Regions from separate parts of the Homo sapiens genome. Here all the other regions are reported to be linked to region 4. Evidence: microRNA targets listed by miRTarBase, many of them from high-throughput screens and not tested one by one. Region 4 holds a microRNA gene; each other region holds the end of a gene's coding sequence.

Evidence for each region. The annotated mature microRNA hsa-miR-92b-3p reads UAUUGCACUCGUCCCGGCCUCC and lies in region 4 at 1,378-1,399, opposite strand. An mRNA with a match to its seed (bases 2 to 7 or 8) in the 3' UTR can be bound and repressed. Matches are read on the target gene's strand: a 7mer-m8 pairs with bases 2 to 8, a 7mer-A1 pairs with bases 2 to 7 and ends in A, and an 8mer does both.
Region 1: miRTarBase lists ABR as a target of hsa-miR-92b-3p. Seed matches in the 3' UTR shown: 7mer-A1 at 3,161-3,167.
Region 2: miRTarBase lists CARD6 as a target of hsa-miR-92b-3p. Seed matches in the 3' UTR shown: 7mer-m8 at 3,726-3,732.
Region 3: miRTarBase lists TRIM36 as a target of hsa-miR-92b-3p. Seed matches in the 3' UTR shown: 7mer-A1 at 2,731-2,737 and 7mer-m8 at 2,611-2,617.

Annotation. Positions count from the first base shown.
Region 1 is chr17:1,002,838-1,006,514 of GRCh38, forward strand. ABR (ABR activator of RhoGEF and GTPase) reads right to left here. Exons shown (of 23, transcript NM_021962.5): 23 at 682-3,332. The coding sequence ends at 3,243. It overlaps TIMM22 (translocase of inner mitochondrial membrane 22), which reads left to right. Exons shown (of 4, transcript NM_013337.4): 4 at 1-834. Among named protein-coding and RNA genes, the nearest start is that of TIMM22, 7.5 kb to the left of the region's middle. RefSeq lists an enhancer at 2,107-2,865 and a silencer at 2,112-2,406.
Region 2 is chr5:40,852,663-40,858,373 of GRCh38, reverse strand. CARD6 (caspase recruitment domain family member 6) reads right to left here. Exons shown (of 3, transcript NM_032587.4): 3 at 3,020-5,711. The coding sequence ends at 3,928. Among named protein-coding and RNA genes, the nearest start is that of CARD6, 14 kb to the right of the region's middle.
Region 3 is chr5:115,122,208-115,127,918 of GRCh38, forward strand. TRIM36 (tripartite motif containing 36) reads right to left here. Exons shown (of 10, transcript NM_001300759.2): 10 at 2,565-4,650. The coding sequence ends at 4,296. Among named protein-coding and RNA genes, the nearest start is that of TRIM36, 45 kb to the right of the region's middle.
Region 4 is chr1:155,193,636-155,196,635 of GRCh38, reverse strand. It overlaps MIR92B (microRNA 92b), which reads right to left and starts at 1,459; the gene lies at 1,364-1,459. It overlaps THBS3 (thrombospondin 3), which reads left to right. Exons shown (of 23, transcript NM_007112.5): 22 at 510-649; 23 at 737-1,048. The coding sequence ends at 795. THBS3-AS1 (THBS3 antisense RNA 1) reads right to left here and starts at 1,639. Exons shown (of 6, transcript NR_183238.1): 1 at 1,264-1,639. RefSeq lists an enhancer at 1-470 and a silencer at 1,627-1,956.

The DNA of each region.
Region 1 (3,677 bases), not on the chromosome of region 4:
ATGAGCGCCAGGGCTGTCAGTACCCATCGGTTCAGTAAGCGAGGCATTGTCCACGCTGCCTATTCACTCGAGAGATGAATAGTTTCCTGTTTTCGATGGCTGGGGAGCCAGTATGAGCTCATAAACCAAACAGCAATTTTCAGAGACATCTGTTCCTGATCTTCAGAATAAACTCAGTGTCCAGTTGCTTCGGCTGGTGGGAGCCAATATTCACGCCACTGACTCTCTCAAAGGGAGGGTGGGCCCTCGGAGACCCAGCTTCTCTGACAAGCAGATTAGACCAAAAGGCTGCCTCAAAGATATGCCACTTTGAAGGAAAGCGTAGAGAAGCGTTTACATAAAAGAAGACGCTTCCTGTTCAGTGGACAACTTCATGCCACTTTCAAGGCACACCGATGGCCAGGTGGGACATTTGTACTGTAGCAGCACATGGCAAAGGTGAGCCAGAAGCAGCCTGGATGCTGGCTGATCCGGAGGCCTTTGTGAAGAGCAAGGAGAGGGCTCCAGCCCACCTCCCCGCAGCTCTGCCCCAGCCCCCGTGGGCCACAGGGAGGCTCAAGGGGAGTGAACTAGGTAAACAGATTCCTGGAAACTCACATCTGGATGCAGCTGGAAGAGTTAAATATTTACATTGGTGGCTTCCCTGGACCACCGCGAACACAAACATCCACACCACAGGGCTGAGTTTTGTGCAAATGATGGGGCTTTGCATTTTTTATTAACATTTTCCTCTCACGTGGTTTACATCAATTTATAATAATCTACATAAGTTGAAACAGAACATAGACAAAAAAATATATCCTTACCAACTTATTAAAGTCAGATATTCATGAAGGGTCCCATCCTACCTGTGTATCAGCAGAAACTGGCAGCCATCAGCCATTGCCCAGCAAGAACAGGCAGACCTGGCGTTTCTTAGCCTGACTCCTGCTGGGCACAGCCCACCCTGCTGGGCACAGTGACTGGAGGTTCCAGGCTGCACAGTCCCTGGCTCCTGACTCCTGCCGGGCGCAGTGACTGGAGGTTTCGGGCTGCATGGTCCCCGGCTCACAGGAGACCCTGCTGGGTGTTTCCTTGGTGCAGTTTAGTCCAGGTCTGGCACCTGACCCTCCCCACTCTGGGGGTGGGATTTATAAATATGAGCCTTTGCATTTCTCAGCCTTTGCAGCCTTCCCATAGCCTGTTCTCACGTTGCCTCAGCGAGCTTGGGGCTGTGGGGCTCCCTGAGGCTGAGACGCGAAGGTGCCCAGTCTGGGCCGTGACTCACTCTGCCCCTTCCTGTCCATCACTTTGGAAGCAAGCAGGAGCCTTCTGTGCCACACACCGACACTCGGATGCCAGGCAGGGACCTTAGGAAGGGCCAGGCACTGCATCTTTAGACTCAAGTTCACCGCCTTTCCCAGGGAGCAAGGGCTCCTTGCTAAGCTGCTCACAGGCAGCCGATGGTCAGTACTTCCTTCCTCTTGGGCATGTCTTTCCTCCGTGCACAGAGTATTTACTGTTCTGCCCAAGGCCACAGGAGTAAACAGGCTCAAAAAGGGCCTCTCACCGCGCACGCGCTGCAGCGTTAGGGCCGGCAAACCCTTCTTTAAGACTCAGCCCTGAGCACAAGCAATGGGAACTGAGCTCCCCAGCCCTGAGGGCCCGGAAACGACGCTCTGCCACACAGAAGAGCCGGGGAGCTGTAACTGGCTATAAGTCGAGCCCCTGGAGCTGCATCTGCTCTCCTAGGCTGATGGCCCGAGGCTGGCAGCCGCAGCTCGTGTGGGAAGTGTACGGTGGGAACACACCTCACTCCTTCCTAGTACCGGGCAATGCGTCTGCAAGTCGGGTCCCTGCTCCCTGGCGGGTGCCTACAGCACCAACAAGGAGGCCCCAGCAGAACCCAGCCCCTAGAGGCGGCTGTCTGATTCCCCACTCTCCCCACAACTTCTGGAGTTCCCAGTGTTTACCCAAAAGGCTGTATCCAGAAGCTGGGGCGGCACCACAATGGCTGGCCACCGTGGGCCTGTGCCTTTGCTTCCCAGGTCCTGGAGGACCGTGGCAGTGCTTGGCTGTGGAGTGTGTGTAAAATCTAAGGCAAGAGTACCACGAGGTCCTGCGGTGCCAGGGAGCTCCTGGCTGCAGCCTACCTGCCTGGACACCTGCTTCGGCCACATCAGTCACCCTCCAGGAAGCCTGGCCCCTCTTGAAAAGCCCCCACAACTTGCTCCTAAGAGCTGAGCTGCCTCCCCGCGACCCGGGACACCCAGCGTGGCATGTGCATTCCTCCCCCGTTCAGCCTGTGGTGTTTCCTCAGCAGCCTGACCGCCTCCTCCCCCATTCTCTCCTGACCCTCTGGCTATCTCGATAGCAGGTCACCTGTGAGTCTTTACACTCAAAGGAAATAGAACAGCAGGGAAGGGAACTGAAAAGCAGTAGAAGAAACAGTCAGAGATGCCTCACTGATAGACAGGAGGCCGAACAGGTAAACCCCAGAAGTGGAGATTCCCAAACGGAAAATTCCAGAAATGGGCGCTCCAGCTCTGTGCTAAGCTGGGGACGAGTGTGAGTGTGTCTGCTTGTCCAACATTTGCACAGGCAGCAAGGCAAAGCAGGTGTGCTCCCAAAGGCGGAGTCTGAGGAGGGGCCGGCAGCGGCAAACGGCAGCATCAAACAGACCACTGCTGCCGCGGCAACCCAGGGCCTCTTCAGAGCTTTCAAGGCGATGGAGCGAAGACCAAGGGTGCACATGCATGCAGGCAGGCTGGGAAGGAAGAGCGGGTGGAGGAAGACTGAGGGGAGGCTGCCAGGAGACCGCCATCTGGGAGCAGGGCCAAGAGAGAAGCTGGCAGCAGTTACACAGCGCAAAATAAAAGGCCTTGGGCTGGACTCAGGCGGAAAGAAAGTGCTGGAGGAAATGAAAGAACAAAGCGGGCTGTCTGTGTGCCCACGCCGGGCCGGTCACTACCTTTTCTGCCTGACAAGTGTACATAAAACAATTCCCGAACAGCACGGAGCATCAGACACAACTAGAGGTATGGAGGGCAGGAGGTGGGATGCGGTGGTGAGGCTGGGGCTGGGCAGCCGGCTTTGTACAAGGTGGCACAAAAGACGTACGCATTCCAGTTCTTGGAAGCTGGCTTCCCTCGAGTCTGGAGTGCTGGGTTTGGGAGTTTTCTATTGCAGTCTTTCAAGTCTGAGTTGGACCCCAGGCTGGAGGGGCTGGTTCCACCACCCGCCCGCAGCCACCCTGCCTCGGGCTACACGTCGGTGGAGAAGTACAGTGTGTTCCGCTTGAGTTCTGCGAAGGAAATGGGGGGGTGCTGCAGGTAGTAGAGGAGGACCTGGACCTGTGGGGAGACAGGAAGGCGGAGGCTGGGCTCCCTGTCCTAGGCCTCGTCCTTGCTGACTCCAGCCTGTGTTGCCCCTCCCACTCCCTAGACTGGCTCCGGCCACCGCCCCTTCCTGGGGAGCCCAGGTGTGTTTGCCTTTCTGCAGCCGTGGAAGGTGCTACGGGGCAGAGGGTCGGGGGCCTAGGGCCACTTCCCCAACCTGGCCATAAGCTTCTGCTCTGTCCTGAGGCGGCCACAGTCCGGCCCCTGCTCTGGGTCTTGCAGGAATCCCAGGGAAGCCTCCCGCCCTTGGAAGCAACCTCAGAGCTTCCACCCATGAGGACAAGGGCCCAGCATCTCCCC
Region 2 (5,711 bases), not on the chromosome of region 4:
GCTTCTGATTGGGTTGGGCCAAGGAGATGCACCAGCAGCCGACCTGAGGTAGGGAGGAGATATTTATTTGCTTCAGGTCACTCACTGTAGCTTGCTGTATCCCTCAACCAACTAGACCTAAGACCATTTCCATACAGCTCTTCTGACTGGGGAAGGCACTTTCTTCTCCTCTCTAGAGTGCTTTTACTGGATCCAGGGTACTGCACTCTCCTTTGCATTTTCTTTCCCTTTATCTTGTTCAGCCCTTTAGAAATACTTCCTTTAGGGCCAGGCATGGTGGCTCACACCTGTAATCCCAGCACTTTGGGAGGCCAAGGCGGGCAGATCACTTGAGGTCAGGAGTTCAAGACCAGCCCAGCCAACATGGTGAAACCCCATCTCTACTGAGAAACACAAAAATTAGCTGGGCTTGGTGGGGCATGCCTGTAATCCCAGCTACTTGGGAGGCTGAGGCAGGAGAATCACTTGAACCCGGGAGGAGGAGGTTGTAGTGAGCTGAGATTGTGCCACTGCACTCCAAGCCTAGGCAACAGAGAGAGACTCCGTCTCAAAAAAAAAAAAAAAAAAAAAAACATGGACACACTCAATATTGATTGTTTAATACATGCACAAAGGAAAAATATCTGTTGTGATATGATACCATTCTCAAGGATTAATTATTGCTTTTCAAAGACCAGCTCTCATTCATTTGTCAATATGACTTTTTCTTTTTTGATGTACTTGAAGGTACTTTTTTTACATATGAAAGACTATTTGGGGACTACTGTAGTGCTTTAAATTAATATTAATTTTACTAGAGTTGCCAATTCACAAACTGAAGCTATTAAGTTCAATTTATAAATGTTATTATTTTATTCTTAATCTAGTGACTTTTAACAGATACTTTTAAAGTGTCCTTTTATCCATATTTGATGTCATTTACAAACCTAGTTAACTAAATGTGACTTAAATATTTTAAATTTAATACACTATTTTTCCTTAATGCCTCTAACAAGCAGAATTTACCCAAATGTTTAGAATAATATGAATCTAATAAAAGTATAAATTTTGTGAATCTTAAGTTCTCTTTAACATTTCAATGTTTTTTGTAAACTTATCTTTTAACTTAAGAAAATTACAACTCTAAAACTGAAAACTCATTAACATATCACTGGCCATCAGAGAAATGCAAATCAAAACCACAATGAGATACCATCTCACACTGGTTAGAATGGCAATCATTAAAAAGTCAGGAAACAACAGGTGCTGGAGAGGATGTGGAGAAATAGGAACACTTTTACACTGTTGGTGGGACTGTAAACTAGTTCAACTATTGTGGAAGTCAGTGTGGCGATTCCTCAAGGATCTAGAACTAGAAATACCATTTGACCCAGCCATCCCATTACTGGGTATATACCCAAAGGACTATAAATCATGCTGCTATAAAGACACATGCACACGTATGTTTATTGTGGCATTATTCACAATAGCAAAGACTTGGAACCAACCCAAATGTCCAACAATGATAGACTGGATTAAGAAAATGTGGCACATATACACCATGGAATACTATGCAGCCATAAAAAATGATGAGTTCATGTCCTTTGTAGGGACATGGATGAAATTGGAAATCATCATTCTCAGTAAACTATCGCAAGAACAAAAAACCAAACACCGCATATTCTCACTCATAGGTGGGAATTGAACAATGAGATCACAGGGACACAGGAATGGGAATATCACACTCTGGGGACTGTGGTGGGGTGGGGGGAGGGGGGAGGGATGGCATTGGGAGATACACCTAATGCTAGATGACGAGTTAGTGGGTGCAGCGCACCAGTATGGCACATGTATACATATGTAACTAACCTGCACAATGTGCACATGTACCCTAAAACTTAAAGTATAAAAAAAAAAAAGAAAACTCAATAACATTTTAAATTTGAATCATGAGGTATTAGTATATTAATACCAGACCCTCTAATAAGTCCAATTTTCTTAACTATTACAAATATTTAAACTATTGTATTAGTCTGTTTTCACACTGCTATAAAGAACTACCTGAGGCCGTGCACGGTGGCTCACGCCTGTAATCCCAAAACTTTGAGAGGCTGAGGCAGGTAGATCACAAGGTCAGGAGTTCGAGACCAGCCTGGCAAACATGATGAAACCCTGTCTCTACTAAAAATACAAAAATTAGCCAGGCGTGGTGGCAGGCGCCTGTAGTCCCAGCTACTTGGGAGGCTGAGGCAGGAGAATCGCTTGAAGCCAGGAGGCAGAGGTTGCAGTGAGCCAAGATCGGCGTGCGCCACTGCACTCCAGCCTGGGTGACGGAGCAAGACTCCATCTAAAAAAAAAAAAAAGAACTATCTGAGACTGAGTAATTTATAAAGGAAAGAAGTTATTGACTCACAGATCTGCATGGCTGGGGAGGCCTCAGGAAACACAATCATGATGGAAGGTGAAGAGGAAGCAAGGTATGTCTTACGTGGCGACAGAAGACAGAGAGAACAAGGGGGTAAGTGGCACACTTTTAAACCATCAGATCTCGGCTGGACTTGGTGGCTCATGTCTGTGATCCCAGCAGTATGGGAGGCCAAGGTAGGTGGATTACTTGCGATCAGGAGTCTGAGACCAGCCTGGCCAACATGGTGAAACTGCATCTCTACTAAATACAAAAATTAGCTAAGTGTGGTGGCAGACACCTGTAATCCCAGCTACTTGGGAGGATGAGGCAGGAAAATTGCTTGAACCTGGGAGGTAGAGGTTGCAATGAGCCAAGTTCATGTCACTGCACTCCAGCCTCGGTGACAGAGCGAGATTCCATCTCAAAAAAATAAAAATAAATCATCAGATCTCGTGAGAACTCACTCACTATCACAGGAACAGCATGGAGGAAACCGGCCCCATAATCCAATCACCTCCCACCAGGTCCCTGGTCCCTCCTGAGGGACATGGGGATTACAATTCGAGATAAGATTTGGGTGGAGACAGAGCCAAACCATATCAAATATGAAACAAACATAGATCTTTCACAAAGTTAATGCCAAATGATTAATTTTATTGGTTGTTAATTCATTATTTCTACCTATAAGGGTCAAATGAGAGAGTTTTCCCATTCAAGCAAATTGGGGCTATTAGCAGAAGCTAGTTGATTTAACCACACCAAATAAGCAGGGTTATCTGCTCAGTGGCTGATATTGAACCAGAAGCTTTTGACAAAGATACCTCTGGAGCAGCCAACAACTAAGATACTTTCTCAGACACAGAGGCAACTTTCGTCCTATTGTACAGTCACTTTGCAATTAGAGACCCTAACCCCATTCTTCTCCAAGTGGGGTTGTCTCATAGACCCCCATTCCCTGGGTGCAAGTTATACATTATCTAATAATACCCAAGATTGGATTCAATTATCTACTGCTTGATTCTAGTCTTAATTATTTTCATATTTTTCTTCTTGGTTAGGGATATAACACTTACAGATATCTTAAAGATATCCAATTCGGGCTGGGCACTGTGGCTTACACACGTAATCCCAACACTTTGAGAGGCCTAGGTGGGCGGATCACCTGAGGTCGGGAGTTCAAGACCAGCCTGACCAACATGGAGAAACCCTGCCTCTACTAAAAATACAAAATTAGCTGGGTGTGGTGGTGCATGCCTGTAATCCCAGCTACTCGAGAGGCTGAGGCAGGAGAATCACTTTAAGCCAGGAAGCAGAGGTTGCGGTGAGCCGAGATCGTGCCATTGCACTCCAGCCTGGGCAACAAGAGTGAAACTCTGTCTCAAACAAACAAACAAAGATATCCAATTCAGTCATGTATATCTTTCTTTGTTTTACATGCTAATGACAGTAGTCTTTTACTTTCATGGCAACTCTTCTGCTTACTATATGATAGGAATGGCCTGGGTAAAGGATATGCTTTATAGATCTCTGGAGTTAGCTCTTTAATGCTTCCCTCCCCTCTTCTGCCCTGCTTTTGAGTGGTGTGCCTTAGCTTGTGAAGGATTGGTTGAGGATGACTTAGGTTGAGGGGGTCTGGGCTGAGAAGGCTTAGACTGGGGAGGCCAGGGCTGGCTTGGCTTAGGCTGAGTAGATTTGCATGGAGAAGGTTTAGTTTGGGAGGGCTGGGACTGACAGGATTTTGTCTGAGAGGATTTAGGTTGAGAGGGCACAGAATGGAAGGGTTTAGGCTGGGAGTGTTTGACTGTGGATGGGTTGGACTGATCGGATTTGAACTGAGAGCTCTTGCACATGGGATGGGACCCTATTTGGAGAGCTGGATTTGAAGCCCCACCTTGTGTCTTCATCTGGACTCCTTGCTGAGAAGCAGGTCTTAGTTTTTGTGTGGCTGCTGCTGGTTGAAAGGACTGAGGGTGAGGCTTTCCAATATGGGATGTTCTTATCAGTTTTCCAGTTGCTTCAGTTAACTCTGTTACCCTGGTGCAAGCTTGCTGAGGCCATGGCTTCCCTACTGCTCTTGCTGGCTGTGAATCCAGGGAATAGGAGTGACCTATCTTGGAGGCTACTGCCCTAGACCTTTCAAGAGTTCCCATCATTTGTGGTCTCTCAGGGCAGGCCTGTACATGCTGACAAATGGGTCTTGGCAGTCTCCCAAATGTTCCATTCGAGTGACATCCCCGAGCAACTCTGGAAAATTTCATGAATCTTTCACCTGAATAAAATATCTGGGGATGGAAGGATTGAATACCAAAACTTTTACCTCGGCCCTGGGCCCCTGCATTCTGAAAAGGCAAAGGATGGAACCACTTAGGCCTCTGCTCTGACCCAAAGGGGCGGCCCATAACCCAGGAGGCTTTCAAGGAAACATGGTTAAAGTTACCTCCAATTCTGGTTGGAAAGAGCCAGGAGTTCTCTAGAACAGGCCTGAATACTGGGGTACCATAGAGATTCTGAAGATTCTGGCTGAGCTCACATTGAGTCCCAGGCTCTTGAATTGGCATTAGAGCCTGGCTTTTAGATGAGCTTTTTAGCTGACTGTGTCTTTGCTGACCCTCACCTTCAGCTGTCCCAGCCATGTTTTCTCCAGAGGAAACTTGAATTCTCTGAGTGTTTTCAAAGTCTTCATCTACCTGAATCCCCAGCTCCCTGGCCAGGGCGGCCATATCCTCCACAGACACACATCTGAGGCAAGAAGAGAACATCACTTCCTGGAGGGCAGCTTGAAGGCCCTCCATGTTCTTCCTTCTATCCCCAGCATCTCCCCTCTCCCAAAACAGTAGCTGTGCTGGCTTCAAGTTCAGTATCCTCTGAAAAATTTGAGCCTCTTCACTCTCCCTGGCTTGGGAACTGAGAACAAAGTAGCATCTTTCAATGGCAGCCTCTCCTAAAAACATTAGCAAGTCCCATTCCTTCTCACCTAAACAGTCAGTGAAAAAAAACACAGCTGAAGAAACTTCCATCAAAAAACCAAACTGAGTCCAAAAGCTTTCTAGATTTCCACGGAGATTAGCCAGAGCAACAGGCTTTTGGAAAAAGGGGTTTTCCTTTCTATCATCGCTATCAGGAAAACACCATGTTATCTCAACCAGGCCATCAGAGATTTGCCGGGGAAGCACCAAAAGAGGCAAATCTTGATGAAGAAAGATTTTGTGTAATTTCAACTGGGCAGGGCTGAGAAGTGTGTTGAGGATTCTGGACTTAGAGAAGCTACAGTATCCTAGACGCACAAAAGAGATGACAGGCATCTTCATGAGAGTCAGAAACTTTT
Region 3 (5,711 bases), not on the chromosome of region 4:
GGATCCCTTCCTTACACCTTATACAAAAATTAATTCAAGATGGATTAAAGACTTAAATGTCAGACCTAAAACCATAAAAACCCTAGAAGAAAACCTAGGCAATACCATTCAGGACGTAGGCATGGGTAAGGACTTCATGACTTAAACACCAAAAGAAATGGCAACAGAAGCCAAAATTGGCTAATGGGATCTAAGTAAACTAAAGAGCTTCTGCACAGCAAAAGAAACTACTATCAGAGTGAACAGGCAACCTACAGAATGGGAGAAAATTTTTACAATCTACCCACCTGACAAAGGGTTAATATCCAGAATCTACAAAGAACTTAAACAAATTTACAAGAAAAAATCAAACAACCCCATCAAAAAGTGGGCAAAGGATATGAACAGACACTTCTCAAAAGAAGACATTTATGTGGCCAACAGACACATGAAAAAATGCTCATCATCACTCGCCATCTGAGAAATGCAAATCAAAACCACAATGAGATACCATCCCACACCAGTTAGAATGGCAATCATTAAAAAGTCAGGAAACAACAGGTGCTGGAGAGGATGTGGAGAAATAGGAACACTTTTACACTGTTGATGGGACTGTAAACTAGTTCAACCATTGGGGAAGTCAGTGTGGCAATTCCTCAAGGATCTACAACCAGAAATACCATTTGGCCCAGCCATCCCATTACTGGGCATAAACCCAAAGGATTATCAATCATGCTACTATAAAGAAACATGCACACGTATGTTTATTGTGGCACTATTCACAATAGCAAGGACTGGGAACCAACCCAAATGTCCATCAATGATAGACTGGATAAAGAAAATGTGGCACATATACACCATGGAATACTATGCAGCCATTAAAAAAGGATGAGTTCATGTCCTTTGTAGGGACATGGATGAAGCTGGAATCCATCATTCTGAGCAAACTATCGCAAGGACAGAAAACCAAACACCACATGTTCTCACTCATAGGTGGGAAATGCACAATGAGAACACTTGGACACAGGGTGGGGAACATCACATACCGGGGCCTGTTGTGGGGTGTGGGGGAGGGGAGAGGGATAGCATTAGGAGATATACATAACGTAAATGATGAGTTAATGGGTGCAGCACACCAACATGGCACATGTAAACATATGTAACAAACCTGCGTGTTGTGCGTATGTACCCTAGAACTTAAAGTATAATAAAATAAAATAAAATAAAATAATTCAATAATTGGTTATTGTGCCAAAAAATACTTCCCTGTCAGTGAAACTGAATAGTTCTGGAGAAATATGCTTTCTCAACTATACACCCATCAACCAGAAGAACCCATGCTTGGTTTTAAAGTTAAGGATAGGTTTACTTTTTATTACTCTTTTGTTTGGTTCGAATATTTCCAGTGATTTCCAGGTCAAATGTTTACTTTGTTCATCACCATAAAAAAATTCCAAGACACATAGATTACACCAGGGCAGTCTTCTAGTCATCTAGAAATCAAATACTGAAACCCTAGGGAATCTGGTTCCATTCTTAGGCTTTATGTCCCATGTTGAATCCTAACAGCATTTGAAAGCCTACTATGTGCAAAACATTATAGGTTGTTAATAACTGCAATAGTAACATTGCATGTAAAAATATTACAAACTTCAGTGGACATCATGCACTATGGATACATATTCTACTAGAAGGAAGGATGTTTTCATATTCTCTTGCATAAACTTGCTGCTCTAGCCTATGGACAGATTATTTCATCTTAAAAGATAATTAAAACAGAAAAAAAAAATAATGGAATGTTTATAAACATATGCAATTGCCAATATGGTTTGTTGTTTTATTTTATGTTTGTTTTTTTTCCACAGGAGAGCAGAAGAAAAACTTATGGTTCATAAATGCTTAATCAAGTGTCGTTGATTCTCTAAAATTTCTCCTCAAAGATGCCTGGCAAAGTATCTCCAAGAGCTTTTAGCATTCTATAATCACGCATTCTGATTTGTTGCACAAAGGGAAAAATAAAATCTAGAATTGCTTAGACGGTAGAACTATTTACAGTATTTTATAAAACTGGGCTATATTAAGTACAGTGTTACAAGGTGGTTACTATATTGTACTATTTAGTAGATACTTTCTGATGTCTTTTAGTATATAACATTTGGTTTAAAGATGAGTATATTTTGAATATATTAATTATAAACACAGCATTTTGGTATTAAAATGTTGACCCTCAGATCCTTAGTCAAGATATAACTTTTACCATATTTTTCCTTTGGGGATAAAAGAACAAACTTGCACTATTATTATTAGCTTATGTAATAAAAAAATAAAATTTTATATTGTTTTATATTAAAAAAATTTAATATATGAAACAATTGAAGTTTTATGTTAAGCTTCTCTAATAATCACTTTCACAGAAATTAAGCTAATAAATAAATGTTCAAAATGATTTCATATAAAACTGTAGCTCTGAGTTAATATGTACAGCTAATCATCTTTTCATAATCAGTTTGTTTCAACTTTTCATGTAAACATACTAAAAATTCCTGGAATGCAGATCTGAATAATTACACATGAATTCTTTTTAATTTTTTATTAAAAATGAAAGAAACACAGCTAAACAATTTATTTACAATTGCACAAGGTTTGAAACAGCTATCCTATTCCTGTTAAAGCTTCACATTTAAAAATGTCTACATCATATGTGCTTGTACAAGGCTTGAGTATCAACCACAAATGTGACTTTAGCAGCTTTATTGCATAATGATCCACATAACGCTGCATTATTTGCTTAGTTTAGCCTACATCATAAAGTGCTATTCATAGATGGGAAATTAACAGCCTGCTAAACACTGAAGTTCTCCATGATATTTGCTACTTGAGTTGAGGGTAAAAAGCTAATTTAATGCTACCAGCCTGAGTAACAGATTTCCATTAAAAATATAACAACAAGGACAACCAAAAAAAACAGGCCTAAAAGTTTTGGTTACCCTGTTAAAACATGTCAAAAGCATTCCATAAATGATTACTGCTACAATGCATAAAAGTAGTTTCTGAATATTTTAACCTCAAAAAAATAAGTACTTTAAATAAAAACCACCTACTTGAAAGCAACACCTTTCAAAAACAGACACACAATTTAGATAGAATGTAATTCCTCAAATTAAAAGATATTTTAAAGGGTACACAGTCATTGTGATCTTAGTTATCATTTCTAAGTAATTAAATTTGTATTTTTACTTGCTTATATTAGAAATGCTTATTACCAATGAGAAACAGAAAATGCCACATAAGTGAACATTTAAATGTTACAAAAATTTATAATATATGTAACGCTACTAAAATATATAATGAACTTTTCAAACATGTAAATATAAATCAGGAAAACCTGATATGTAATAATTGGGCCAAAAATGAAAATCACAAAACACAGTAAGGGGGTAAAAGAATAAATATGACTTTTAATATCAGTCCATCTTTACCAATATATCTGAAAAATAATTCTTTGACATAAGAACAAATATTTTCACAGAATAAGAAAAACTAAAGATAAATTTCTCTGAAAAAAAGTATATAAAGTGAGAAGTTTAATGTGTTAGCTGAGAACTTTGTGTTTTCTGCAAGAAACCATGCTTACTACCCATGCTGTTAAATGAGTGTTATGGCTAAGCAGACTCTTAAAATGTCCTTAGCAATACAGTTTGTGGTCTTAACAAAACAAAACAGTAGTATTCCTTTTCCAGGCAATATATTTTTAATAGTTACACACTTTAAAATACATAATTTTCCACTTAAATATACTACCACTTTTATGGTGTTTTTCTTTTAACCTATCTAGAACTTTGTTTTCCTATTGAAAACAAATGCAAGACACATTGCTTAGTACTAATTCCTATCCATAAGGCATTTAAAAAATATCTTCTCTTAGGACATAAACATGATATAAAAATGAAAAGTCAAACAGAAGAGAATCATAATAAATACTTTTGTATCCCCCCCACCATAAGGAAAGTGTCAGCAACACCAGCTGACAGAAATAAATTAGATATCCTGTACATAAAGTAAAAGACAGTCCAGTTGCAAAGTTAACCACTTCAGTATTAACTTGGAAAGAACATCTTCACTTTCATCATTTGTGAAAGGCAGAACAACGACATGAAGACACAAGGCTGTTTAGATTTTCTGTATTTCAAGAAGAATCATACTCAAACACAAGTGGGGTGACAGAACACTCAGCGATATGTAATTAGTTACGAAGGTTAACGCTAAGGCATTGCTTTGTTTACAGTTTTTATCCTGAGTCACATCAGATGTTTCAACTACATGTCCTCTTGGTATTCCAGATATTTTGCTGTGATGGGTTCTTCAAGCTGAATTCCTCCACTGCCCATTAATGCAAATGCTGGATACAGTGTATGTGAACAGTCCACTTGGCGTTCATAAAGGCATTTCATCTGATCCATATCATAGAAATCTACTTTGCCTTTATCACAGTCAAGGAAAATCCCAATACTTGTTGGCATAGGGAGAACTCTATTTTCAGGTTCATTAGAAGAAGTAGGTGACTTGGGTATAAAAAATTTCTGCATGCCTATAGTAACTAAGGTAAATGGTTGTGAAGAATCAAAACAGGCATCCTCACTTCCACTGTCATGCCCACTGTCTTGCTCATATCTGAAACATAATACAAAGCATCTGTATCTTCAACAATAGATCTAAGTATCTTCAAAACATTTTCACAGGATAATATACATTGATGTAAAGTTAAAATAGTTTTTACATCAAAAGCTTTCTATTAAAACAAAATCAAAAACATAAAAATGACACATTACAATTTAGAATTATACCACAGACTCAGCCCCAAATTCCCTGTCATTAAACACTGCTTTAGTTATATACAGAAGTGAAACCCTAGAAAATCATTGATAATTTTAGCCTTCCAAAAAGTGAGGGAGCGGGCAGTGATAACTGGTCAAATGTTAAATTTTTATAGCACACAATCATGTACAATCATGTACCACAGAACATTTCAGTGAACAACAGACCTCATATACCACAGTGGTCCCGTAAGACTATAATGAAACTAAAATATTTCAGTTGGGTGCAGTGGCTCATGCCTGTAATCCCAGCACTCTGGGAGGCCAAGGCAGGAGGACCACTTGAGGCCAGGAGTTCCAGACCAACCTGGCCAACATGACAAAACCATATCTCTACTAAAAATCCAAAAATTAGCCAGGCATGGTGGTGTACGCTTGTAGTCTCAGCTACTTGGGAGGCTGAGGCATAAGAATCACTTGAACCCAGGAAGCAGAAGTTGCAGTGGACCGAGATAGCACCACTGCACTGCAGTCCTGGCAACAGAGCGAGACCCTGTCTTAAATAAATAAATTCATTCATTCATTCATTCCTATAGCTTAGTGACGTGGTAGCCACTGTAAGGCTGTAGTGTAACCCATTACATGTTTGTGGTGATACTGGTGTAAACAGTGCTTAAAGTTGTTACATAAAAGTGTAACACATACAATTATGTACATTATGTAATATTTAATAAGTGACTGTTACTGGCTCATGTATTTATTATGCAATGCTTTTATTGTTATTGTAGACTTACTCCTTCTACTTATTTAAAAAAATGTTAACTGTAAAACAGCCTCAGGCAGGCCCTTTAAGGAGGTTTTCCAGAAGGCAGCACTGTTATCCTAGGAAATGACAGCTCCATGTATGTTACTGCCCCA
Region 4 (3,000 bases):
CACTTTGTCCACAACTTTGCATTTCTCTCCAACAAGTAGCCCTAGTTGGTGGAGATGAACAGGAAGGGAGGGGAAATGGGTCTGCTTAGAGGCTGGACTTTCCATGGCCAAGAGCCCAGAGTCCAGGAACCTGGGTTGGTTCCCCTTTAAGGTGCCTGGGGCTGTGGGGTGCCAGGACAGGGGATAAAAGGGGGTGGACTAGAGCCTGGGAAGCGGGTGACTTCACCCCCCAGCCCATTGTGCTTATTGTCATGGCAACCCAATCCTCGCTTGGAATGCGGCTGGTGCTTTGAGATGCAAAAGGAGCTGGACAAAGAGCTAGGGGCCCCAGGCCTGAGAAAAGCACCCCCCTTCCCTCTCCTTCCTGCCTCCCTTTCCCTCCCTCCCTTCTCTCTCAGGCCTGGTGAGCTCAAGGGGGGCTGGGGAAAAGCAAGGCCCCAGGCATGGTGGCACAGTGCCCACTGGCACCCTAGCACCAATGGATACTCCTATCCTGGAATCCTGGACAGGGTGAAGCTCTATGAGGGACCCCAGCTTGTGGCGGATTCTGGGGTGATCATTGACACATCCATGCGAGGGGGGCGTCTTGGTGTATTCTGCTTCTCCCAAGAAAACATAATTTGGTCCAATCTCCAGTATCGATGCAATGGTGAGGTGGCTGATTGAGATCAACCTAATCCTTCATGCCTTGTGGGAGAGCCACATCCTCTGACCTTACTTATTTCCCCTTCTTCAGACACAGTGCCTGAGGACTTTGAGCCATTCCGGAGGCAGCTGCTCCAGGGAAGGGTGTGAGGAGGAGGCCACCAGATTCAGAATTCAGAATTTTAGACCCTTTGGCCTTGGGGTCCATCCTGGAGACCCTGAGGTCTAAGCTACAGCCCCTCAGCCAACCACAGACCCTTCTCTGGCTCCCAAAAGGAGTTCAGTCCCAGAGGGGTGGTCACCCCACCCTTCAGGGGATGAGAAGTTTTCAAGGGGTATTACTCAGGCACTAACCCCAGGAAAGATGACAGCACATTGCCATAAAGTTTTGGTTGTTTTCTAAGCCAGTGCAACTGCTTATTTTAGGGATTTTCCGGGATAGGGTGGGGAAGTGGAAGGAATCGGCGAGTAGAAGAGAAAGCCTGGGAGGGTGGAAGTTAGGGATCTAGGGGAAGTTTGGCTGATTTGGGGATGCGGGTGGGGGAGGTGCTGGATGGAGTTAAGTGAAGGATAGGGTGCCTGAGGGAGGATGCCCGAAGTCCTCCCAGACCCACTTACTCACGGTGGCAGCGGCGACACTCCAGTCTATCAAAGATCCGCCGGGATGGAGAGCCAGGAGGGCGGGGGCTGCCCCGCTAGGGGTAGCGGGGAGGCCGGGGGGCCGGGGGGGCCGGAGGCCGGGACGAGTGCAATATTGGCGGGGGAAAAAACAACACTGCACCGCGTCCCGTCCCTCCCGCCCGCCCGGGGCCCGGGATCCCGCTCCCCACCGCCTGAAGCCGGCCCGACCCGGGAACCCGGGGCGCGCTGGGGAGTTGGGTTCACCTTGGAGGCCAGAGAGACTTGGCGCCCGGAAGGCAAAGGGAATGGCAAGGGGGAGGGGGGAGGGAGAACGGGAGTTTGCGGAGTCCCAGAAGGCCGCTTTCCGACGCCCGGGCGTTGCGCGCGCTTGCTCTTTAAGTACTCAGACTGCGCGGCGCGGAGCCGTCGCCATGGTGACGCGTGTCCCAGCAACCGAACTGAATGGCTGTTGCTTGGCAATGCCGGGAGTTGAGGTTTGGGGCCGCCCACCTAGCTACTCGTGTTTTCTCCGGCCTGCGAGTTGGGGGGCTCCCCGCCTCCCCGGCCCGCGCTCCCGGGCGCGCTGACGTCAGATGTCCCCACCCCGCCCAGCGCCTGCCCCAGGGTCTCGCCGCACACAAAGCTGCGCCTCGGGCGCCGCGCGGCGCGCGGGCGAGAGCTGTGGTCTCTCGCCTGCTGATCTGATGCGCTCCAATCCCGTGCCTCGCCGAAGTGTTTTTAAAGTGTTCTTTCCAACCTGTGTCTTTGGGGCTGAGAACTGTTTTCTGAATACAGGCGGAACTGCTTCCGTCGGCCTAGAGCGCAGCCTGCGACTGCGGGACCCAAGTTCCACGTGCTGCCGCGGCCTGGGATAGCTTCCTCCCCTCGTGCACTGCTGCCGCACACACCTCTTGGCTGTCGCGCATTACGCACCTCACGTGTGCTTTTGCCCCCCGCTACGTGCCTACCTGTCCCCAATACCACTCTGCTCCCCAAAGGATAGTTCTGTGTCCGTAAATCCCATTCTGTCACCCCACCTACTCTCTGCCCCCCCCTTTTTTGTTTTGAGACGGAGTCTTGCTCTGTCGCCCAGGCTGGAGTGCAATGGCGCGATCTCGGCTCACTGCAACCTCCGCCTCCCGGGTTCAAGCGATTCTCCTGCCTCAGCCTCCTGAGTAGCTGGGGTTACAGCGCCCGCCACCACGCTCGGCTAATTTTTGTAGTTTTTAGTAGAGACGAGGTTTCACCATCTTGGCCAGGCTGGTCTTGAACCCCTGACCTTGTGATCCACTCGCCTCGGCCTTCCAAAGTGTTGGGATTACGGGCGTGAGCCACCGTGCCACGCCCGATCTGCCTCTTAAGTACATAACGGCCCACACAGAACGTGTCCAACTCCCCCGCCCACGTTCCAACGTCCTCTCCCACATACCTCGGTGCCCCTTCCACATACCTCAGGACCCCACCCGCTTAGCTCCATTTCCTCCAGACGCCACCACCACGCGTCCCGGAGTGCCCCCTCCTAAAGCTCCCAGCCGTCCACCATGCTGTGCGTTCCTCCCTCCCTGGCCACGGCAGTGACCCTTCTCTCCCGGGCCCTGCTTCCCTCTCGCGGGCTCTCGCTGCCTCACTTAGGCAGCGCTGCCCTTACTCCTCTCCGCCCGGTCCGAGCGGCCCCTCAGCTTGCGCGGCCCAGCCCCGCAAGGCTCCCGGTGACCACTAGAGGGCGGGAGGAGC